Homo sapiens: one gene and its partners. The protein of the gene in region 1 interacts with the protein of each later gene in a pairwise test. Each region holds a gene or a part of one and is shown in the gene's direction. Other genes may lie near its edges. The genes, in order: EIF4ENIF1, LLPH, NXF3, EXOSC7, RPRD1B, SUPV3L1 and WTAP.

Evidence for each region.
Region 2: the proteins of EIF4ENIF1 (region 1) and LLPH interact in a two-hybrid assay, tested with the Homo sapiens proteins (one large-scale study listed by BioGRID).
Region 3: the proteins of EIF4ENIF1 (region 1) and NXF3 interact in a two-hybrid assay, tested with the Homo sapiens proteins (one large-scale study listed by BioGRID).
Region 4: the proteins of EIF4ENIF1 (region 1) and EXOSC7 interact in a two-hybrid assay, tested with the Homo sapiens proteins (one large-scale study listed by BioGRID).
Region 5: the proteins of EIF4ENIF1 (region 1) and RPRD1B interact in a two-hybrid assay, tested with the Homo sapiens proteins (one large-scale study listed by BioGRID).
Region 6: the proteins of EIF4ENIF1 (region 1) and SUPV3L1 interact in a two-hybrid assay, tested with the Homo sapiens proteins (one large-scale study listed by BioGRID).
Region 7: the proteins of EIF4ENIF1 (region 1) and WTAP interact in a two-hybrid assay, tested with the Homo sapiens proteins (one large-scale study listed by BioGRID).

What each region holds. Positions count from the first base shown.
Region 1 is NC_000022.11:31,455,343-31,458,842, reverse strand, and holds part of EIF4ENIF1 (eukaryotic translation initiation factor 4E transporter), read left to right. Parts: intron 1-192; coding exon 193-368; intron 369-2,855; coding exon 2,856-2,991; intron 2,992-3,500. UniProt on the Homo sapiens protein: EIF4E-binding protein that regulates translation and stability of mRNAs in processing bodies (P-bodies). Plays a key role in P-bodies to coordinate the storage of translationally inactive mRNAs in the cytoplasm and prevent their degradation.
Region 2 is NC_000012.12:66,124,251-66,127,750, reverse strand, and holds part of LLPH (protein LLP homolog), read left to right. Parts: intron 1-3,500. UniProt on the Homo sapiens protein: In hippocampal neurons, regulates dendritic and spine growth and synaptic transmission.
Region 3 is NC_000023.11:103,090,344-103,094,378, reverse strand, and holds the start of NXF3 (nuclear RNA export factor 3), read left to right. Parts: upstream 1-1,235; 5' UTR 1,236-1,355; coding exon 1,356-1,383; intron 1,384-4,035. UniProt on the Homo sapiens protein: May function as a tissue-specific nuclear mRNA export factor.
Region 4 is NC_000003.12:44,986,244-44,989,743, forward strand, and holds part of EXOSC7 (exosome complex component RRP42), read left to right. Parts: intron 1-2,896; coding exon 2,897-2,998; intron 2,999-3,306; coding exon 3,307-3,401; intron 3,402-3,500. UniProt on the Homo sapiens protein: Non-catalytic component of the RNA exosome complex which has 3'->5' exoribonuclease activity and participates in a multitude of cellular RNA processing and degradation events.
Region 5 is NC_000020.11:38,043,746-38,047,245, forward strand, and holds part of RPRD1B (regulation of nuclear pre-mRNA domain-containing protein 1B), read left to right. Parts: intron 1-3,500. UniProt on the Homo sapiens protein: Interacts with phosphorylated C-terminal heptapeptide repeat domain (CTD) of the largest RNA polymerase II subunit POLR2A, and participates in dephosphorylation of the CTD by RPAP2. Transcriptional regulator which enhances expression of CCND1.
Region 6 is NC_000010.11:69,197,234-69,200,733, forward strand, and holds part of SUPV3L1 (ATP-dependent RNA helicase SUPV3L1, mitochondrial), read left to right. Parts: intron 1-1,138; coding exon 1,139-1,319; intron 1,320-1,870; coding exon 1,871-1,964; intron 1,965-3,046; coding exon 3,047-3,266; intron 3,267-3,500. UniProt on the Homo sapiens protein: Major helicase player in mitochondrial RNA metabolism. Component of the mitochondrial degradosome (mtEXO) complex, that degrades 3' overhang double-stranded RNA with a 3'-to-5' directionality in an ATP-dependent manner.
Region 7 is NC_000006.12:159,754,163-159,756,819, forward strand, and holds the end of WTAP (pre-mRNA-splicing regulator WTAP), read left to right. Parts: intron 1-865; coding exon 866-1,449; 3' UTR 1,450-2,157; downstream 2,158-2,657. UniProt on the Homo sapiens protein: Associated component of the WMM complex, a complex that mediates N6-methyladenosine (m6A) methylation of RNAs, a modification that plays a role in the efficiency of mRNA splicing and RNA processing.

The sequences.
Region 1 (3,500 bases):
TTAAGGCTTTTTTCCTTTTCTGCCTCCCGTAGAAGGGGGACTGTTTTATTCTTGCAAGTACAGTACCTGCACGAGAAGTCTGCTTTTTAAGTCATGTGTGGCTCTTCTACATGTATACTGATGGCTGAAGCCACAGAGGGACACTGGAGTGATTTACTTATCAGACGGTTTTTGTCCTGGTTTTGCTTTCAGGTATAGTAGAGTGCAATGGAGGAGTGGCCGAAGAGGATGAAGTGGAGGTCATCCTTGCACAGGAGCCTGCGGCTGATCAGGAAGTGCCAAGGGATGCTGTCTTGCCTGAGCAGTCCCCAGGAGACTTTGACTTTAATGAGTTCTTTAACCTTGATAAGGTGCCATGCTTGGCTTCGGTGAGTGTAGCAGCACACTTAAAAAATGTGTGGTTAAATTTGACCTGAGTATTTAAGACATCGGTTTGAAAGTGTTGTTTTGCTAGATGCTTTTGGGGTTTTTGGCTTTTATTCTTACATATTTAAATTTTTGTTGGCTTTGTTTTGAGAGGCTTAATGGATAATATGAGATTTTTGTACCAGTTAACTCTTTTTTAAGCTGGTGGTGTTAGACTAAAAATTCTTTTTTTGTTGTTTTTTTTTTTTTGAGTTGGAATCTTACTCTGTCACCCAGGCTGAAGTGCAGTGGCACGATCTTGGCTCATTGCAACCTCCGTCTCCTGGGTTCAAGCGATTCTTCTGCCTCAGCCTCCTGAGTAGTTGGGATCACAGGTGTGTGCCACCATGCCCAGCTAATTTTTGTATTTTTAGTAGAGATGGGGTTTCACTATGTTGGCCAGACGGGTCTTGAACTCCTGACCTTGTGATCCTCCTGTCTTGGTCTCCCAAAGTGCTGGGATTACAGGCGTGAGCCACCGCACCTGGCTTTTTAAAGTTATTTTTAGAATTCCTGTTTATCACTAAGATGCTTATATTTTGGATACACTCCCCAATTTTTCACAGTGATGTATCATGCTTATCTTATATTTTAATTAATACAAAATTAGTGCACTTAAAAGTCAGCATTATTTAAGGTATGAGCATCTACAGGTGGAATGTGATTGAAATTGTCTAGATAATTCCTCTGAAAATAGAAATTCTGGAAACAATAATTAGGGTCTTGAATTAAAATCCCTTCAAAAGAAGTATATTGTGGCTTAATTTGGGTATGGATTATGAAAACATTCTTCCAGATAAGAACAAAGAATAAATCTAAGCTTCCCCTGCTTAACTTTGGAAACTGTGGGTTCCAGATTTCAAATAAAACAGTCACTAATTCTGTCATCCATGTACCAGTTTTTGAAAAAGCATGTTTTCTGTTTATCAGTGGGATTGACGTGAAAGTATATGACTTATTTTCAAGGATATGTCTGATTTTTGGATAGATGTTTGCTCTATCTTGTCTTTTCTAAATATTGATAAGAATACTGCAAAAAATCAATTTGGATATTTGACTGAATTTATGGTATGATTTGAATTGAAAAATTTTTTAAATGCTTAAATCTAGTTTTTAAGAAAGATTGGCACTATTTCATAATTTCTACCAAAGCAATTTATTGTTCATAGTGTGTTATTTAATTGTCCTTATTAAATGTAAACTATGGAGGTTGGATTTGGAAACAGAAAACACCTGAAAACTCTCTATTAATCTCAAACAGAAATTAGAGATCAGTTGAAATTTCATCTTCCACAATCATACTTTTTCTAAACTTTGACTTGGAATTACAGTCTTTATGAGCTCTGCTTTTTTAGCCTTTGGCTTCTGAAACTCTCAAGATTGAATTTCATAATGTTCATTACAACCTTGAAACCACTAAGTTTGAAGCAATGGTTTTCTTTCATCAGTTCCCCATACTTGATATTTAGTTGAAGGTCACTCATCAGCTTGTCAGTGGAATGCTGTGGCATTGACACTGTTCTCTGAGAACATTTGGTAGTACGTGGATTTACTCCTGAGGCAAAGGATAGAAACCCAAAAACCTTTTTGTAGCATAGAGGCTTTGCTTTATATTCTTAGAAAGTAGTGGTGGTTCATGCCTGTAATCCCAGCACTTTGGGAGGCCAAGGCAGGTGGATCATTTGAGGTCAGAAGTTCGAGACAAGCCTGGCCAACATGGTAAAAACCCATCTCTACTAAAAATAAAATTAAAAATAGCCAGGCATATGGTGGCGTATGCCTGTAGTCCCAGCTACTCGAGAGCCTGAGGCATAAGAATCACTTGAACCTGGGAGGCAGAGGTTGCAGTGAGCCAAGATTGCACCCCTGCACTTCAGCCTGGGCAACAGAGCGAGACTGTCTTAAAAAAATAGTAGACCGGGTGTGGTGGCTCATGCTTGTAATCCCAGCACTTTGGGAGGCCAAGGCGGGCGGATCACAAGGTCAGGAGATCGAGACCATCCTGGCTAACACGGTAAAACCCCGTCTCTACTAAAAATACAAAAAATTAGCCGGGCGTGGTGGCAGGCGCCTGTAGTCCCAGCTACTCAGGAGGCTGAGGCAGGAGAATGGTGTGAACCCGGGAGGCGGAGCTTGCAGTGAGCCGAGATCGTGCCACTGCACTCCAGCCTGGGTGACAGAGCGAGACTCTGTCTCAAAAAAAAAAAAAAAAAAGTAATAAAAAATAAAAAAGGAAAGTAAGTAGATGGTTATACTCAAGTTTGGGTTATTCAGAAATTACCCAGGATGGAGGAAGAAAAAGGTGTTCAAATTCCTAGGTTCTGAGAGTATTTATCTTCAGGTCACGAGCATGAAAGGAAGTTTCAAAGTAAGTGACCCTTTCATAAGATTTAAACCTTCTTGTCCTTTTTCATCTAGAAACTATTAGTTTTTATTGTCTTTTTCTTCAGATGATAGAAGATGTTTTGGGAGAAGGGTCAGTCTCTGCCAGTCGGTTCAGTAGGTGGTTCTCTAACCCGAGCAGATCAGGAAGCCGATCCAGCAGTCTTGGGTCAACACCACATGAAGAGCTAGAGAGACTTGCAGGTAAAATGGCTTCAGATTCTGCCCTTGAAGGTAAACCTGGGTTTTTCCCTGATATGGTTCATTTTATCTTCATTAGTCAGGAGTCAATTAGGGTCAAAGGGTCTCTGGACAACTGAAAAGCCTTCAATTTGTGTCCTTTTAATATTGTTGAAGGGGCCGGGTGCAGTGGCTCACGCCTGTAATCCCAGCACTTTGGGAGGCCAAGGCAGGCAGATCACAAGGTTAGGAGTTTGAGACCAGCCTGGCCAACATGGTGAAACCCCCATCTCTACTAAAAATACAAAAATCAGCCAGGCGTGGTGGCGGGCATCTGTAGTCCCAGCTACTCAGGAGGCTGAGGCAGGAGAATCGCTTGAAACTGGCAGGCGGAGGTTGCAGTGAGCCGAGATTGCGCCACTGCACTCCAGCCTGGGCGAAAAAGCGAAACTCCATCTCAAAGAAAAAAAAAAAAAAAAAGAAAGAAAGAAAAATACTGTCGAAGGCATGTTTCTTTACTGGAACAGATTAAT
Region 2 (3,500 bases), on another chromosome or scaffold:
AACACTTGCCTTCACTTGCTGTTTTCATTTCCTCACACACACATCACCCCTCCCTATTGGTTCTTTTTTGTTGTTGTTAAGGCAAAATCCACATAACATAAAATTAACCATTTTAAAGTGTACAGTTCAGTGGTATTTAGTACATTCATGTTGTGCAACCATCACCTCTAGTTCCAAAACACTTTCCTCACCCTAAAAGGAAACTTAATACCCATTAAGAAGTCTGTCTCTCCTCCTCCTACCCCCAGCCTCTGGCAACCACTAATATGCTCTTTTCATGTGTGAATTTACCTGTTTTGAATATTTCTTATAAATGGAATCATATATAATGAGACCTTTGTGCCTGGCTTATTTCCCTTAGCATGGTGCTTTTGAAGGTCACGCACATTGTAGCATATATCAGTACTTCCTTTCTTTTTAAGGCTAAATAATAGTCCATTGCATGTACCACGTTTCATATCCATTCAACGGTTGCTGGGCATTTGGATTTCTTTCCCCTTATGGGTGTTGTGAATAGTGCTGCTGTGAACATTCAGGTGCACAAGGTTTTGTTTGATAAGTGGAATTGCTGGGTCATATGGTAATTCTTTTTAATGTTCTCCACATCAGCCACACTATTTTACATTCCCACCTGCAGTGTTTGAGTATTTGAGTTTCTTCACATCCTCACTAATACTTGTTTTCCATTTTCGGATTATAGCCATCTTCGAGGGTATGAAATAGATTCTCATTGTAATTTTGATTTGAAGTTTCCTAATGACTAATGACATTGAATGAAGTGTTTTTTGGTTTTTGTTTGTTTGTTTTTTGTTTTTTTTTTTTGAGATGGAGTCTTACTGTTGCCCAGGCTGGAGTGCAGTGGCATGATCTCGGCTCACCACAACCTCTGCCTCCCAGGTTCAAGCAATTCTCCTGCCTCAGACTCCCAAGTAGCTGGGAATACAGGCGTGTGCCACCATGCCCAGCTGAATTTTGCATTTTTAGTAGGGTTGGGGTTTCACCATGTTGGCCAGGCTGGTCTTGAACTCCTGACCTCAAGTGATCCACCTGCCTCAGCCTCCCAAAGTGCTGGGATTACAGGTGTGAGCCACCACACCCGGCTGAACATTTTTTCATATGCTGATTGACCATTTGTATTATCTTTTTGGAGAAAGGTCTACTCAAGTCTTTTGCCTCGTTTTTCAATTACGTTGTTTGTCTTTTTATTATCGGGTTGTTAAGAGTTCTTTATATGTTCTAGATACCAGATGCCCACATCCACTCTTGATTCTTTTGGATTGATCCTGTTTTCTTTTCTCTCCTGTTTTCTATTTATTTTGTTATACCCTCTAATTTCCTTGACCTTGAATTCTGGTTCTTATTACTTGGTTTTCTCTTATATTTTTAATTTCTAAAAGTTTTTCTTTTTTTTTTTACTTTTTTTTTTTGAGATGAACTCTCACTCTGTCGCCCAGGCTGGAGTGCAGTGGCATGATCTCGGCTCACTGCAAGCTCCATCTCCCGGGTTCGCGCCATTCTCCTGCCTCAGCCTCCCTAGTAGCTGGGACTACAGGCGCCTGCGATCACACCCGGCTAATTTTTTGTATTTTTAGTGGAGACGGGGTTTCACCATGTTAGCCAGGATGGTCTCGATCTCCTGACCTCGTGATCCACCCGCCTCGGCCTCCCAAAGTGCTGGGATTACAGGCGTGAGCCACTGCGCCTGGCCTACTGTTCCTTTTTCATAGCTTTGTGTTCTTTGTGTTTTGTAAATGCCCCTTGAGTCATCAACTCTGTGTTCTTAATGGGCATATATCTTCTCCTAAGGGTATTAATTACAATTTGCTTTTGAAATTTTTATTTATGGTATGTATTATCTGTCTTTCCTCTTGGAATTCCCTCCCAAGCCCTTCCATTCCTTTACTTTTGTCTCTTTCTTTCATATTAGAAGCTTTTCTCAAATGTCTGGTGATCAGTGGTCATTGTTTGTATTTAAAAGTGTGGCACTACAATGATGATTGGAAGCTGGAGGGAGACAAGGTGTGGGAGAGGGTCTGTCAACTGCTAGATGTATAGAAGATTTGGAATGGCTCCAGGAGGTTTTATTCGGAGATCTCCTGTATCAGAATCTGTTAAGTCTTTTTTTTTCCTCATCATCCCCAGAGAGAAATTATCTTATGTCCTGCCTGGGGAATTCTGGATGCCCTTATTCTTAGATATTTTAGGAGCTAAAGGGTGGTGAGACTGAGACTGAGGGAGTCTCCCCATTTAGTAATCTATTTGTTATCAATTTGGCTCTCATCTCTACCCTCAAGTTCATGTTTTTCCTTATTTCTACTCTTTCAACTGCCTGCCTGATTTCTTAAGCCATAAACCTAGTAGTCATCCTTGATTCCTCTTTCCTTTATTCCCCACATCTAAACCATTAGCAAGTCTTACTGATTGTCCCAAAAATACATTAGAAATCTGTATCCATTTTTTTCCTGCTTTCACCTTGATTCAGAAGGCCGTCATCTCTTGCCTGTACTATTATAGGAGCCTTTTTACTTCTCTCTTCCGCTCTTGTTCCCTTCTCATTTATCTTCTACATATCCACCAGTGTGATCTTTTCAGAAGGTAAATCAGTTTATATCACTGCCATGCTTAAAAACCTCATTATCTTAACATGTTCTTACCAGCGCCTACCAGTTCTTTTTTTTGCGGGGAGACAGGATCTCACTTTGTTGCCCAGGCTGGAGTATAGTGGCTGTTCACAGGCGTGACCAAGCCCACAACATCCTTGAACTCCTGGCCTCAAATGATCCTCCCACCCCAGTCTCCCGAATAGCTGAGACTACAAATGCCTATAGATACTATACCTGGCTGAGGTTTTCTTTCTGTTTGCTGTGTTATTCTCCCGTCAACAGAACACTGTAAACTCCGTGAGGGCTAGGAGTTCATATGGACCACTATATCCCCATAAACTAGAACAGCACCTAAAATAATCATTCAACACCTAGTTATTGAGTGGCTGTTATATACCAGACACTATTCTAGATACTGTGGAAACAATGGCAAATATCTAATATAATGCCAGGTAGTCGAGATAATAGAAGACTTTGTGTATCCTGATAAGGAGGTCCCAGTGAGGGACTCTGAGCATGTCCTTCACAGTGGAGAAGGTGATAGGTGTACCACAGCATGTTTGCACTGAGCTTCCTGCCAAGTCTCCTATCAGTAGAGCTGGATCTCTGGGTGTTACCTAGCTAGGAAAAGTATGCCAGCCCCAGGATGTGTCCAGGTCTTCTCTGTTGAGTGCCTGTCTCTGCCATTACAACCCTGCTGCTGACTACTCCATCGAGTTCATTAGAAGTTCGTTCTCAGTTCATTATAATTTAGTTCAAGTTCTTAAGAAATGGCCAGTCATTCCTAATCAGTTCATTACATCTAAGGTGTATCCCTTAGAAGTGTAGGTATGCTTACTGAACTCAAGGAATCACTTAATATGAGAAATGTTGTTGTAACTCACATGTGCTCAGAAC
Region 3 (4,035 bases), on another chromosome or scaffold:
CAGGAGCCCACGGAGGCGGGGGTGGGGGTGAGGCTCAGGCATGGCGGGCTGCAGGTCCCGAGCCCTGCCCCGCGGGAAGGCAGCTAAGGCCTGGAGAGAAATTGAGCATAGCAGCTGCTGGCCCAGGTGCTAAGCCCCTCATTGCCCAGGGCAGCAGCGCTGGCCGGCTGCTACGAGTGTGGGGCCCACCGAGCCCACGCCCACCCAGAACTCCAGCTGGCCCGCAAGCGCCACGCGCAGCCCCGGTTACCGCTAGCGCTTCTCCCTCTACACCTCCCCGCAAGCTGAGGGAGCCAGCTCTGGCCTCGGCCAGCCCAGGAAGGGGCTCCCACAGTGCAGTGGCGGGCTGAAGGGCTCCTCAAGTGCCGCCAAAGTGGGAGCCCAGGCAGAGGAGGTGCCGAGAGCGAGCGAGGGCTGTGAGAGCTGCCAGCAAGCTGTCACCTCTCACTAGTTTATTCCCTCTCTCTGGCCTGAGACTTTAAGAGCTACATTTCTGGCTCTAATCATTAGGAGTATCCATCTACATTGACTATACTTTATTTTGTCTTTAAGACAATACTTGATTCTTTTCTACTTTCATTACAGTGACACACTAAACTTTTACTTTATATTTTCCTGGTCTGTTTTTTGTATTCTCTCTCTAGGATGGGCTGTAGTTAATTCCAGTCACACGAGTATTTGCAGAACATTGTCTTACTTTGCCCTAACTTAAGTAAACCCCAAATATTATAAGAGTTTAGAAAAGCTGTGCATAGAGGGGTCACCCACTATTCCATGGTTCTCATTTCCACTTTGTTTCTCCAGGTCACATCTGAATCATTCCAGACAAGGTCCTATACCTCATTAAGCCTCAGCACCTTCAGGAAGCTGGTGATTCTGAGTTGAGAGTCCCCTTGTGAGGAATACATGGAGAAAAAAGTAATGTAGCAAGTACAGAGCTTGAGCTACCATAGGCACTCTGAGTCTCTGAGTCTCTGAGTCTGCAGAGTAAATGAATACAATGTAATGCACTGGAGATGACCAGCAAGCTGAGTTTTCCGTGTTTGTTTCAATAAGTATCTGGGTCCTAGGCCTCATGATTGTGATTGTTGCTAACCACCTTTGCAGGAGTGGCTACATTAGAAACATCTCCCTGGGTGTTAGGCTGGCAGCAAACTTTGGGGAGTGGTAAGAACAGGAAGTTAATTCTGTGACTCCTAGGACACTCCTCTCTATGCTTGGGGAAGGAACTTCCTGTAAGCAAGGCTTGAGGCTTGCTCTCGCCTTCGTCAGCAGCCCTCCTCAATCTTCTCCAAACTCCCGTCCCCAGGCCACACAGATTCTCCTCAAGAGAGCCCTATAAGGACATTGGTAAAATGTCACTGCCTTCAGGACACACTACGGGTGAGTTGGCCAGCATGAGGCTGGAGTCTCAGGTCTCACAGGGCAAAAGGGACTGAGCCCCCTTCCCCACCTTACCCTAACCCACATAACACCCAGCCAATCTCCCTTTAGATGGGGGTGGGCAGTGGCAAGGGCCCAGGCCTGAGTCTTGTGGCCTTCTCAGGGCCAGGGTTTGAGGTATGAGGAGGGTCACCTGAGGCAGGGGTTGGTAAAAATTAACATTCCTTGGATGTACACTAGAGGTGGTAGTGGGGCAGGGAATACATCTTTAATCTTCACACTAACCATTCAAGGTAGATTGTATTACCTCCCACCCCAGCCCCAGAAATTTATCAAGGCTAGCCTTATGGCCCAGCATATGACTTATTCTGGAATGTTCCATGTGAAGGTTTTCTGTGCAGTGTTCTATGTCATTTAAGCAAACTTATTACTCATGCCATTTAAATCTTCTATATGTAGCTGAATTTTTGTCTGCTAGTTTTATCTGTTACTCAGAGAGGTGTGTTAAATTCCCACATCACAGTGGTTTTAACTATTTCTCTATTTACTTAGATCAGTTTTTGCTTTGTATCTAAACATAGATTGGTCCATGTTAAGACATGCATACAAATTTAGAATTTCTTTTTTTTTGTATAACTTGAAACTTTATTTTTAAAGTATTCTGAAATTTTTTCAATAATTTTAACCAGCACTTACTTCCCTTAAGCACACACACATTTTTATCTTACAATTATAAGCCCTATTGCAGTACAAAAAAAAACAATAATTCTACTAAGTTAGCCAGCCAATTAATTCTACTAAGTTAGCCAGCCAATCAAACTATGTCCGTAAATAATCATGTTACAGCCTAGAATCAAACAAAAAATTCTTCTAGTTCTCTTTAAAGATATTTATCATTAATTTTTTCATAAAACCAAAGTAATTGATCCAACAATACTAACAGTTCTAGCATGCAACAGACCATCTAATATCTAATGTTTAATCTTCTTCTTTTTTTTTTTTTTTTTTTTTGTGATGGAGTCTTGCTGTGTCGCCCAGGCTGGAGTGCAGTGGCACAATCTCGGCTCACTGCGAGCTCTGCCTCCCGGGTTCACGCCATTCTTCTGCCTCAGCCTCCCGAGTAGCTGGGACTACAGGCATCCGCCACCATGCCTGGCTAATTTTTTGTATTTTTAGTAGAGACGGGGTTTCACGGTGTTAGCCAGGATGGTCTCGATCTCCTGACCTCGTGATCCACCTGTCTCGGCCTCCCAAAGTGCTGGGATTACAGGCATGAGCCACCGCGCCTGGCCTAATCTTCTTAACATGTGTATTTTCATTCCTATAAAGTTTCCTTAAGAAGCTTGCAATAATAATAAAGGTAAATAAGTACAGTTGTCCCTTGGTATCCATGGGGTATTGGTTCCAGGACCCCCCCTACCCTGCCCACCCACAGATACCAAAAATCCAAGTATACTCAAGTCCCTTACATAAAGTGGCATACTTGCATATAACCAGCGCACATCCTCCTGCATACTTTATCTCTAGACTAATACCTAATGGAATGTAAATGCTATTTAAATAACAGTTATATTGTATTTTTTATTTGTATTATTTTTATATTTTTCTCTCCTATTATTTTTGATCTGCAATTGGTTTAATTCACAGAGGCAGAGTCCGTGGATACGGAGGACCAACTGTGTTTTGTTATAGGTACTTCAAATAGCACTTCAGTACATCTTTGACAAAATTTTTACAATATTCCAACTTTCAATATGAAACAGCTTAAAAAGGCATGGGTCAAAAAAAAAGTATAGTAGCATCACTTAGGCAAATAAAGCCTCATAATCATACAAACACAACACTGTTAGGACTCTCCCTGTTTAGGTCGGGAAAAAGAGTATATAAAACATTTCCTTCAAATAAAATTACATAAATTGCTTAGAAAAATGCCAAAATCAATAATTTCAGACATAATAAGGAGAAAACCTTGAACATTATTGGAAAATATAAACTAGCTATTCCTTGCTTTTGTGTAACAGATGAGTTCTTGAAAAGTTTTGTATTAAGCAAATTCTGTAAACCACTATCTTGCCTGCACTGGAAGAACATATCCCAAGGAAACCTAAGAGAAAGTGTTTTTTAAAGCATGTGATTCTCCTCTGTTTTTGTTGGCTGTCTCTACGTAATAAACAGGCACACTTCTACATCATTGGGTGTTTTACTCAGACTGCCATGTTTCATCTCTGTAAATTAAACCCAAGTTACTTAAAAATCACCTGTGGTAAAAGAAGCAAGCAGATCACCCCCACCTTCTATCCCTCCCGCCTCCCCCTGCCCCAAAAGGGAGTTCTCAGATTATGATGCAAAATTTACAATTGTTCTTTTATCCACATTCTCAATAGAGGATTTTCCACTATATTTAAGTATGGTAGGATAATTACCCACCTGTTCCTCTTTTCAGCTTAGAAACATAATGGTTAATTCCTTTTATTGCTAGAAAATGTCATTCCTGAAGATTTTATAAACAAAGGCAAAGGTGAAGGACAATTTGTCATTATGAAATAAGTCCTTTGTAGTTTAGAATATTTCCCAAATCATAACAGTTCTATTTGGAATGATACCCACAACTCTACAAGCATCTTATCCCTCTACAGGAATGACTACCTTACT
Region 4 (3,500 bases), on another chromosome or scaffold:
TGGCAGGCTGCAGATCCGGAGCCCTGCCCCGTGGGAAGGCAGCTAAGGCCCAGCAAGAAATTGAGCACAGCAGCTGCTGGCCCAGGTGCTAAGCCCCTCACTGCCTGGGGCCAGCTGGCTGCTCCAGAGTATGGGGCCCGCCTAGCCCACACCCACCCGCTGAGCCCATGCCCACCCAGAACTCGCGCTGGCCCGCAAGCACTGCCCGCAGCCCTGGTTCCCACCCACGCCTCTCCCTCCACACCTCCCAGCAAGCTGAGGGAGCCGGCTCCCACCTTGGCCAGCCCAGAAAGGGGCTCCCGCAGTGCAGCGGCGGGCTGAAGGGCTCCTCAAGTGCTGCCAAAGTGGGAGCCCAGGCAGAGGAGGTGCCGAGAGCAAGCGAGGGCTGTGAGGGCTGCCAGCACGCTGTCACCTCTCAATATCTTCCAGGGAGGAAAGGTGCTGGGGGAAGGATGGGCTGCACAGGACCTTCCACCTGATTTGTGATGTTTATTTTCTGTCATTGAAAAGTTAAACGGGTGAAAGACCTGAAGCAAGTATGGCAGAGGGTGATCATTGGTACTGTGTGGTGCTGCAGTGTTTTGCTTTTTTCTGTTTAATTTCTCAAAAAAGTCAGTCACATATGCAGTTAGCCAGGCAGTTTAAAGATAAACTGTCAGTCACATACTTTAGAGCAGTGTTTTATTTTATTTTTTATGTTTCTGGGAAGCATCAACTCCTTGGAGAATCTGATTAAGCTAATGATTCTTTTTCTGAAAAAAACTGCTTTTGAAAAATGTTTACAAAGAATGAGAAGGAGCTCCATGAGCCAACGTGGAATGATTTCCTGCATATATATAGTTAAGTGTTAAAAAAAAAAAAAAAAGTAAGAGTATCTATAGTATTCCACCCTTCATATAAGAAACAAGGAGATATTAAAAAATTCATGTATTTGCTTATTTGTGCAGAGAAAATACAAGAAAGATAAACCTGAAACTGAAGAGAAACCTAGGGTGAATGGGAAGAAAGGGGCATGAAAATAGCATAATACGGAGGAGAGTGACATTTCTCTGAGCATACTTTTCTGAGTTTTCTCTCAGAACTATAGTGATAGCTCACAAACTCAGAAAGTAAATAAGTAATTAAAAGTAACCATGATGTGGGGGAACCCAAAATGGAAAACAAAAATTTACAAATGAAAATTAGCCAGGCATGGTGATGTGCCTGTAATTCCAGCTACTTCAGAGGCTGAGGCGGGAGAAGCGCTTGAACGCAGGTGGCGGAGGTTGCAGTGAGCTGTGCCACACTGCACTCCAGCCTGGGCGACAGAGCCATAGTCTAAAAAAAAAGTTACAAGTTACAAATGAGCCTGTGTTACAAGTGAGTAATGTAACCACACTGAAGGGCACGTAGAAGAAAAGAACTGAAGTAACTGGAAAACAGTATTTTGCCTGGATACTCTGAGGCTAAAGACAGAACTTTACACAAATACTGTGTGCTATTAGTAAATTTGTTTCTCACAGGGGTATGGGTTAGAAGTTCAGAAACTGTGTATACTAAGATTGAACAAATACAGAAATACATGTTAGATAATAAGAGCCAGCTTTCTCCTTCTTTGAGAAAGAAGTTACAAATAAGAAACAGAGGAAGGTTAGAATGAACCATGTGATGTTAGATTGGAATTGATCTATCAGTATGAACTCTTGGCTTTTTAATAGATATGTAGATAGATACAGAATTAAACAGATTTGTGTGTGTGTGGTGGGGGTGGTTAGTATACATAACTGTATTTTCTAGCTCTGTCTGCTGAGAAGTTCTGGAAGAAATAATACTCCAACAGCAATGAACTTAGAGCCTAGTTCCTGGTTTTAAGTACCATTCCCCAATAAAAGCAACCAGGGCTCCTTGGAGAAAGGCTTGATCCCTAGGGCTGGGCAGAGAAGACACAAGAGGATAGATATCTTGTGTTGCAGAAAGTAGATAATTACTCAAAAAGTTGGAGGCATGTTGAAAGAGCACAAAAACTAACCCAAAGAAGCCCCCAGTGGCCAAATTTGGAACACTTTGAGCAGCAAAATAACTAATGATAGTAGTGGATTATAACCATAGCATAAAAGATACCAATGAGTTGTACTGATACAAGTAATTGAAGGAGTAAATAAATGGGCAGAAGGAACAGGCAGCGCGTAGACCACCCTGAAAACCATCTTCTGCCAAAAGAGTCAGCAAACTTCCTGTAAAGGACTGGATAGTAAAGATTTGGGGCCTTATGGGTCATATCTCTGGCCCAACCACTCAGCTCTGCTTTTGTAGTGCAGAAACAATCATAGACATTACCTAAACAAGTGGGCATGGCTATGTTCCAGTAAAACTTATTTACAAAAACAAGGGACCTTAGTTTGTTGACCCTGTTCTAGAGACTGCCTCTTTAGAAGATTAGGTGTCTTTCACTATTTACACAGTAGATCTTGTTGAGTTTTAGGGGTAGGAGGGCTTCAGTTGAGATGATTGTACTCTGTAGCTCTGACAACATATACTTCTTGGTGCAATTTAAGAATTGCAGATTTAGAGAGAGGTGGCTTATTTTGTCTCTTGTTCAGATCTTGTTTTTGTGTGCATATTCTATATAGTGGTATGTAGTATAGATTTTGCAATCAGACACAACTGGCATGGAAAACTAGCTTTGTTTTCACTAGCTGTAGGACCTTGGACAAGTCGCTCAACTTCTCTGAGTCTCCATTTCCTCATATGTAAAATAGTAATGTTGTTGTTAGCTACAAGGACAGAATTTTAGATGATCCACTAAGAGGAAAAGAGATATTCTGCATATATCTTCTCTAGGGGGAAAATGGGTGAGTCCGTTTAGGAGTTATTGTTGATCTGGGGTGACTATAGGACTGTGGTTGTTAACACCTAGGAAGACCTCCGTGTGGATGGCCGTGGCTGTGAGGACTACCGATGTGTCGAAGTGGAAACTGATGTGGTGTCCAACACTAGTGGGTCCGCCAGGGTCAAGCTGGTGAGTACTGTGACCATGGTTCAAGCCCAGGTGGAGAAATGAGTAGGCCCTAAGGAATGAGCTGCTGACGCTGTCTGGCTTTTGGAATGCAAATTGCTCTTGGGGAAATCGAAGATCCGAGCCAAACTCAGGGAGGGGGGGTCTATCCAGATCTGAAAAGACTGCTCACCTCCTCCAAAGACCACTTTCCAAGTCTTAGCACTGCTCCTAAAAGAGTCCCCCAGGGGTGTATGTCCAGAAGAGGAGGGAGGTGGTGGAGTACCTGGCTGCATACTCTGAGTGAGGACTCTTCTTGCATGTGTCTGCAGGGTCACACAGACATCTTGGTGGGAGTGAAAGCAGAAATGGGGACGCCGAAGCTGGAGAAACCAAATGAAGGCTACTTGGAGTTCTTTGTTGACTGGTCAGTACTGTCTATGCAGATATTTCTAAAGATAAATGATTTTAAAGATGAAGATTCAGAAAATGAACCTCTGGTTTGCTGTTGAACCCACTTTTATAC
Region 5 (3,500 bases), on another chromosome or scaffold:
AAAGAGAAATCAAAGACGATTTCTAGGTTTTTGATGTAAGGAATGACTGATGGTGCCCTTTACTGAAGTGAAGATTGGGGAAAAGATTTGGTGGAGGAAATCACGAGTTTTGTTTTGGCCAGGCCGAGTGTGAGGTGGCTAGTGAATATTCCAAGGAGTGATGCCAAATAGGCAGGTGGATAAAATAGTCTGAAGCTCAGTAGAGACTTGATTTCTGGAGACATAAATTTGAGAGTTACCCACATGATATTTACTTATTGTTGTGGGCCCCAAGACCACTCCCAGGTTTGGTGATTCCCTAGAATGACTCACAGGGCTCATCATGTAGTCATAGTCATGGCAGTGATTCATTACAGCTAAAGGATCCAAAGCAGCAGCAGCAGCAGAGGGTGATGTGCATGCAGTACCCGCAGCAGACTGGAGCGCTCTGGGTATAAGCTTCCGAGTCCTCTCTCAGTGTTATTCCACAAACACGCTTAATTCCTCTAGCACTGAGTTGTGATGTGTATGATGTGTAACCTACCAGGAAAGCTCATTAAAGACTCTGTGCCCAGAGTTTTTATTGGATTGGTCATGTAGACACCCTCTGCCAAAATTCTAAGCTCCCAGAAATAAATCAGGTGTTCATTTTTTTTTTTTTTTTTTTGAGACGGAGTCTCACTCTGTCGCCCAGGCTGGAGTGCAGTGGCTTGGTCTTGGCTCACTGCAAGCTCCGCCTCTCGGGTTCATGCCATTCTCCTGCCTCAGCCTCCCAAGTAGCTGGGACTACAGGCGCCCGCCATGATGCCCGGCTAATTTTTTGTATTTTTTAGTAGAGACGGAGTTTCACCATGTTAGCCAGGATGGTCTTGATCTCCTGACCTTGTGATCTGCCCGCCTTGGCCTCTCAAAGTGCTGGGATTACAGGCGTCAGCCACCGCGCCAGGCTCAGGTGTTCATTAAGAACCGTATTGCTTGCACAAACAATTTAGGCCCAGTAAACCACCCTTACCAGTTAGGAAATGGTAGGGACACTCGGAAATCCCAAGTTCCCAGACCACTTCCCTAAGGGTAGCAGTCTGGCCTTCTGTGTTAACTCCTTTCTGAACCAGCTTTACATGAGGTACTGTTGGAAGTGTAGGGAATACTTAGAATTCCTGCCCTTAGTAGGCCTACCATAGGCCTGCTGTGCATGAGATAAGACAGAGTTGTACAAATTACTGTGGTTGTACTGAAAAAGTGCCATAGAACTGTAGAGGAAGAAAAGGCCCCCAAGGCTGGCTTTGCAGGGACTCAGGTGTCCAGCTGACACGTCAAGCAGCCAATTCTGTTTGTGTGTATCATATACATTTTTCACTCTTAAAGGTCAGTTTTGCTATCTGTATTGAAAAATAAAGTGATTGAATTTGTTATTAATCAGAATTAAAATATGAAGTGTTCAACGTAATATTAAGTTGTGTATGTAATTATTTGCCATCTTCCACTTTATTCATAGATTGTTGGCAAAGATTGTTCAGTCTTTTTTTCCACTTAAAGATTTCTCAGTTTAGATTGGAGTTAGTACAACCTGAAAATATTTCTCTTTCTGTTATAAAACGGCTTTATTACTTTGGTTGTATCTAATTCCAGATGCCAAAGTGACTTCCATTTCGCTGGAGCTACTTCCTTCAAAACCTAATCAGTAGAAAGATTTCTTGAATATTTTATGTATAACTTTGAAACTTATCTAGCAAAACTTTGATTTACCACAATGTTCAAGGAAATATCTGTCCTGGTTAGTTATATTCACTAATTAAACTAGAACCCCCCTTTTGGCCTTTAGTAGTAAAAGCCTTTTGAAAATGTTTTGTGGTTATAACAGGTTTGAGCATCATTTTCCACTGTGCCTGAAACTGTACACAAAACCAGTCTTAGCCTGAATGGAGTCCCAAGTATCTCCAGGAATGGTGGGTGGTGGGTGTGTGTTGTGATACCCACCTACTTTTAAACTAAGTCCTTGATAAGAATTTATTCTCGAGACTGGTTTCTCTTTCTTTTAAGCGAACAGAGAATCTGCAGCAAACAGATTTTATGCTAAAAGTACCAGCTAGTTCATTAACTAAGTTCTGATTAGTTGCAATTTGGTTTTACTAATTATAATGACTTTATTTTTCTAAGCTATACATTTGCTCACATTAGGGACCTCCCATTGCCTGCAGGCCACGTGCTTTAATATGGCATTCAGGGCTCGCTGTAATTGAATTCCACCCTCCTTCCAGATTCTTCTGCAGTTTCCGCACATTCCCCCATATACTTCAGCTACTTGAATTACTCCTTTCCCTTTGCCTTGTTCAATTTTGGCTATTCCATTTGAAGGAGAAGAGATAGCATGAACAAAGGCACATGCACATGAGAGAACAAATTCTGAGTAGCAAATACATACGGGTGGGTGTTGCTGGAATGCAAAGTTCCAGGTAGGGTAGGGAAAGGAGACTAAAAACAGGTCTGAGGGATTGCTGAGTCGAGCCCTAGAGGTCAGGACCCAGGCCTTCTTATTCTTTGTAAACCTTCATTGGTCGAGCTGAGGAGTGCTTAGTTGATTTCTGCCATGACCTTGATACAGTAAGATGATTGTTGAAAGTTAAGTAACTGTATTACTTACCGAAACCCATATACATTTTTCTGGAAAAGATTACAATTTGACAGATATTCATTGTGCTTGTTCAAGGGCATATAGCAATGGGAGAAAATGACAAATCTGCACCCCTGTGGAAATTACATTCAAATGGAAAGCGTGTAAACAAAAAGTAAACTATTGAATATACAGCATACCAGAAAAGTTGTATGGAGAAAAATTGAGTAGGGGCAGGGAGTGTTATTTTCAACGTGGAGATTAGGGAATGACACACTGAAGGTGGTGTAACTAAACATACCCCTGAAGGAGGAGAGGAATTGAGCTGTGTGGCCACATGGGGAATGTGGTTCCAGGCAAAGCAAACTTTTGAAGTGCTAAGGCTCTGAGGCAGTGCTAGGGTAGCTGTTGTTGAGGCAGGAGGTTGGAGGACGGGGGTGGGGAAGAGTGGGTAGGAGATGAGGCCAGGGAAATAACAGCTGGGTTGGGAAAGGCCTTGGAGTCTTTATAAGGACTTTTATTCTGAGGGATACTGGGAAGAAATGTTGGCAATTTTGAACAAAGGAGTGACGTGGTCTGCCTTAGTACAGCAGCTAAAATTGTATTTTGAAAACTCGAGAACAGGTTGTAGGAGGACAAGGGTGGAAGCGAGGAGACCAGTAATGAGGCTACTGTAGTAATGCAGGCGAGAGATGATAGTGCCTTGGGCCAGATTGATAGCAGAGGAAAAGATGAGAAATAACTCATTTCCGGATATATTTTGAAGGTGGAGTAAAAGTGTTTTATCACAAATACCAAGTAATTGGGTCATATTTTTAAGCTTTATAAAATTAGCAGTAGAAATGTTTTTCCTTTTTTTTCCCGAACCCTCACTTCTGACTTTAAAAAGTTTAACAAAAAAAGAATTAAT
Region 6 (3,500 bases), on another chromosome or scaffold:
TTGATTGAACCTCATGATCTGAAGTTCTGACAGAGTGGTCATCACACCCTAAGTCTTCCAAGAGTACAGGAAATTCTTCACTTCTTGACAAAACCTTGTGGGGCTTGAGTAGATCTCTTCGAATTAAATAAATCAGTACTCTTAGAAGTTGGAGACCCAGCAAGTTTGTCGTTTTCAAAGTGTTGTATGTCAGATATTGGGGCCTTTGATACACATCTAATTGCCAGACACAGTTTATATTCCTTTTTGAAATTCTTAGAGTTGGAAGTAACTGGTTTCCTTTTAATCCTGCTTCTCTTTTTCTTTACCAGAGTTCTATAGTAAAATGAATTATTATTATTATTATTATTTTTTGAGACAAGGTCTCACTCTGTTACCCAGGCTGGAGTGCTGTGGTGCAATCACAACTCACTGCAGTCTCAGCCTCCTGGACTCAAGTGATCCTCCCACTTCAGCCTCCCAAATAGCTGGGACTACAGGTGTTTGCCACCATGCCCATCTAATTTTTTATTTTTTGAGCAGAGGGCATCTCACTGTGTTACCAAGGCTGGTCTCGAACTCCAGTGCTCAAGCAATTCTCCCACCTTGGCCTCCCAAAGTGCTGGGATTATAAGCATAAGCCAAGGAAATAGTTTTGAATTAGCCTGTTATTTTAGTTTTGTGCTCAGTTTTCAAGGAGAGATAGTGGAATATAGTGGAAGAAATTTTGGAGTCCATTCTGTGTTTTGCCATTCTTAGCTTTGCATTCTTTAGACAAGTCACAGAAGGTTAGACTTGCAAAATGTGCCTCAGACATTAATTTTTTATTGGGCTCAGTTTTACTATTTTATAAAATGGAAATAGCAGTTAATAACCTTTCTGAACTTAACACATTGCCGTGAAAATGAAATATATGAGAAAAAGCTTTGAAAACAGGTGAAACACTCTGTTTCATCTTATTAATTTAGAGATGCCAATGAGAAGTGATGGTAACACTTATAATATCAAAATAAATGTTTTTCTGTGTTTTCTTTTGAAAAACATTGGTACTTATCAGTTTTTAGCTACTCTTAACTGCATTACAATCTTTTCACTTAATTACTAGTCACAAGAAGTTGAGTTGGGTGTGTCATTTTGCCATTTCATGTCTTTATTGTAGGTTCGAGACTATAAGAGGCTTACCCCCATTTCTGTGCTGGACCATGCACTAGAATCTTTAGATAACCTTCGGCCTGGGGACTGCATTGTCTGTTTTAGCAAGAATGATATTTATTCTGTGAGTCGGCAGATTGAAATTCGGGGATTAGAATCAGCTGTTATATATGGCAGTCTCCCACCTGGTAATTATTGACTTTCCTCGTGACAAGATATGAAATCTCCTATCTTTGCAATTTATGTTGAGATATATATAAAAAAATGGTAAACAATATTGAATTAAGCTGCTTGATGTATTGGTAATTTGTTAAACGTCATATAAAATAAATAATTTTCTATTTCATCTTAGTGGAAATAGAAGTATTTTAATTATAGTTCTTGTTAGTTGCTGCTATTATTAGACTGTATCTTAAATGTTGAGTTTATTATTTTCTTACAGAAATGTCATTGAAATCTGGTCTTGACCATGTCCTTTTAAGTTGTAGTCCTGAAATCTGTGTCCTCAGGAATAAGGCTAGTGTGGTGGGGGATTGTGTTGCTATATGACGGAGTATTTGAAGGAATGGATGTAAAGGATAAGTGGCTCTTTGAGGATATAAAGAAATAAAGTTTGAAACAGTAAAGGTTTTATCATTAAAAATGGGAAGAACAGGAGGTGAGGGTTTCCAAGATGTACTTAGCTTGATGTAATAAAAGACTGAGAACACTGATTTAACATAAATTGTTCTTGTTTTAGGGACCAAACTTGCTCAAGCAAAAAAGTTTAATGATCCCAATGACCCATGCAAAATCTTGGTTGCTACAGATGCAATTGGCATGGGACTTAATTTGTAAGTAATTTGTTTTTAATAAGATGAATATTTGGTGAGTTAAATGGTGGTTTTTTTGTTTTTCAGTTTTCTAATTGGCATTAATGACCAAACGCTATGATTTGGGAGAATAAATATTATAGGCTAGATTTGAGGTTTGTCTTGCCTACACCTATTGAGGGAAATAAAAAGAAAATATTAAATAGTGCCAGGACTTTTCTTAGGGACAGGGTCTTGCTCTTTTACCCACGCTGGAGTGCAGTGATCAAATTGTAGCTCAGTGCAGTCTTGAACTCCTGGGCCCAAGTGATCCTCCTGCCTCAGCCTCCAGAGTAGCTGGGACCACAGGTGCACACCACAAAGCCTGGTTATTTTCTTTTTTTTTGGGTAGTGACAAGGTCTTACCCTGTTGCCCAAGCTAGTCTCTAACTCCTGGCCTCCAGTGATCTTCCCACCTCAGCCTCCCAAAGTGCTAGGATTACAGGCATGAGCCACTACACTCGGCCCACACTAGGACGTTTGAATGCTGCCCACCACTACTGCTAACCTATTGTACTACGTCACTTTACTTTCAGTTTCTCAGTCAGGTGTCCGAGTGCCTATTATGCACATGGGGCTAGTTATTATCTCTAAATGATAACAATGTTAAGCCTAAATATTATTTATTTATGTATTTATTTATTTCTGAGACAGAGTCTCACTCTGTGCCCCACGCCGGAGTACAGTGGTGTGATCATGGCTCACCGCAGCTTCAAACTCCTGGGCTCAAGCGGTCTTTGTGCCTCAGCCCCCCGAGTACTAGAGCAACAGGCACACACCACTGAACCTAGCTGATGTTTTTAATTTTTTGTAGAGACTTGGGTCTTGCTATGTTGCCCAGGCTGGTTTTGAACTCCTGGCCTCAAAACAATCCTCCTGCCTCAGCCTCCCAAAGTGCTGGGATTATGGGTGTGAGCCACTGTGCCAGACTTTCCTTAATTTTGTAAGTGGCAGTCAAGGTTGCAAGAGGACCTAAGCTAGTATTGGAGTGAGCATTATGCAATGACCCAAGTATTGGAGGGTTTTTCATACAGTCTGCAGGATCACTTTTATTTCTGTTTCAGGAGCATAAGGAGAATTATTTTTTACTCCCTTATAAAGCCCAGTATCAATGAAAAGGGAGAGAGAGAACTAGAACCAATCACAACCTCTCAAGCCCTGCAGATTGCTGGCAGAGCTGGCAGATTCAGCTCACGGTTTAAAGAAGGAGAGGTTACAACAATGAATCATGAAGATCTCAGTTTATTAAAGGAAATTTTGAAGAGGCCTGTGGATCCTATAAGGGTAAGAGGTAACATGTTAACTACTGCTTCTCTGTGGAGGAGAGTCATTCTTTCCCTCACCCACCATCCAGACTCTCACCTCAGACACATTTCTGGATACAGACATAAGTGAAAGAAAATTTTGTGCCATGAAAACTGCATTAAAAAAAGCCCTACTTTATTGCTTTGGAGAGCCACAGAGTTCTTTGATCAGAGAATGGTATGCAAGTGAAGGTCCAGATTGACAAAGTTTAGT
Region 7 (2,657 bases), on another chromosome or scaffold:
TCCAAATTCTTTGAAATTTTAAATTGAAAATTAGTGTCTCTGGTTAATTGCAAAGATGATCAGTAGCCAAGTAATTTCTTCTGAACTACCTACCTTTTCAAAATCTTCAGGAATTATTTCCTGTGACTTTTGTCCTTTTATATGTAACAGTCCTTGGTTGAGAACATGGGCCTCTTTGGAGTGTTATAGAGGACCACACTATCCTTAAGGATCAGACTTGCTATGGAACTAAGGCACTGGATCAGGAATAAGGGGATTGGCCATAGTGGGCCCATAGGTAAACGTGAGTCAAACTTTGGGGCTGTAATCAGGCATATGGCAAGATGGATCAAAACAATTTTAACTTGGTTGCTTAATACAGTTGCCCTCGGTATCCATGGTGGATTGGTGTCAGGACCTCCCACAGTAAGCCCCTCATATAAAATGATGTCATATTTACATATAAACCTATGTACATCTTCCCCTTTGAGCCATCTCTAGATTAACAGTACCTAATACAATATAAATGCTAGGAAAATAGTTATTTTACTGTATTGTTTGGGGGATAATGACAAGAAAAAAAATCTGTACATGTTCAGTATAGACCCAGTTTTTTCTTCCTTGAATATTTTCCTTCTACAGTTGCTTGAATTCATTGTTGCATGTGGAGGGCCAACTGTATATTATTTTAAGTATCTGACTTCCCCCAAAACAAACTCAGTCATATTTTAAGATTCCAAGCAAAATTTTTAAATGTAGTGTGATTTTAGAATTGTATTTGTTTACTTGAGCGTTTATTGACTCCCTTGCTTTGTGGCAGGCACTAAAGAAACATTTTTCAATGTTATAAACGATATTAAAGTTGGTCTGACTCTCCTTTGCACAGAACTGAATGACTTCATCATCCAGCTTGATGAAGAAGTAGAGGGTATGCAGAGTACCATTCTAGTTCTGCAGCAGCAGCTGAAGGAGACACGCCAGCAGTTGGCTCAGTACCAGCAGCAGCAGTCTCAGGCCTCTGCCCCAAGTACCAGCAGGACTACAGCTTCTGAACCTGTAGAACAGTCAGAGGCCACAAGTAAAGACTGCAGTCGTCTGACAAACGGACCAAGTAATGGTAGCTCCTCCCGCCAGAGGACGTCTGGGTCTGGATTTCACAGGGAGGGCAACACAACCGAAGATGACTTTCCTTCTTCTCCAGGGAATGGTAATAAGTCCTCCAACAGCTCAGAGGAGAGAACTGGCAGAGGAGGTAGTGGTTACGTAAATCAACTCAGTGCGGGGTATGAAAGTGTAGACTCTCCCACGGGCAGTGAAAACTCTCTCACACACCAATCAAATGACACAGACTCCAGTCATGACCCTCAAGAGGAGAAAGCAGTGAGTGGGAAAGGTAATCGAACTGTGGGTTCCCGCCACGTTCAGAATGGCTTGGACTCAAGTGTAAATGTACAGGGTTCAGTTTTGTAATATTTTTTCAGCAAATTTTTATACAGTGTCATTTAATTTGGGAGAGGATACTGTCCAGAAAATTAATGCATACTTTTGTCACAATTTGCCTTTTTGTGGGTGTACGTTTTGGTTTTTTTTTGTTGTTTTTTTTCTTTGTTTTTTTTTTCTTTTCTTTTTTTTTTTTTTTTTTTTTTTTTGCTTCAATACTTCTGCCGCTTTGGAAATTGTAACAGTTAATTACTTTGAATGTTGCTAAAAGGACATTTTGTGTAGGGTCAAGTTATTTTTATATGAGTTAATGTGAAATTGTAAATGGAAATTTTTCCTTAAAATACAACACAATGATGTCTGTATAAATCTGTCTGTTTAGAATCTGTGCTGTGTAAGGGCATTCGTACTCATGCTGTTACTGTACTTATGCACCATTCAGACTTGTTAGAGTAGATGTGGGTTTATGACTGCCAAGTTTGCCCAGTACAGTAGTTTTTTATCACTAAAAGTTGGACTCATTGATGGAGTCCTGTAGTAGTTTCAGTGTTAGATACAGTTTTTTCCACCATACATCTGTGCATTTTCTCTTTAGGTGACTGTTTAAGAAATTTGTGTGCATAGTTACTCAGTTTTTATGAACTGTTGTATCCTGTTAATGCATATTGCTCTGTGACTCCAGTATATCTTACCTGTACTGACCAAACCTAAATAAAGATTTTTATTGTAACTCCTTAATTAGCTTTTTTGTTTTGTTTTGGGTGTATGTTTAGCATTTGTCATTTTCATTGAGTCATTGAATTTCTACTCATTATCCTTCAAGTACCACAACAGTCAAACTTAAGACCAAGCATCGATTACGATTTTGCACACAATTTTTAATTTATGCCTTATTTTGCAAAACGGAGCTGGAGTTTAGGGCTACACTTAAAATTTTTTCTTGACTTATAATTGTTACAAAATATTTTAAAATACAGAAAAGTATAAAGAAAATAGTCATCTATTTCTTAGGCTTTTTTTTTTTTTTTTTTTTTAATTGAGACAGGGTCTTGCTTTGTCACTTAGGCTCAAGTGCAGTGGTGCAGTCATGGCTCACTGCAGCCTCAAAGTCCTCGACTCAAGTGATCCTCCCACTTCAGGCTTCCGAGTACCTGAGACTATAGGCATATACTACCACACCCAGCTACATTTATTTTAATTTTAGTAGAGACAAGGCCTCGCTATGTTGCACAGGCTGG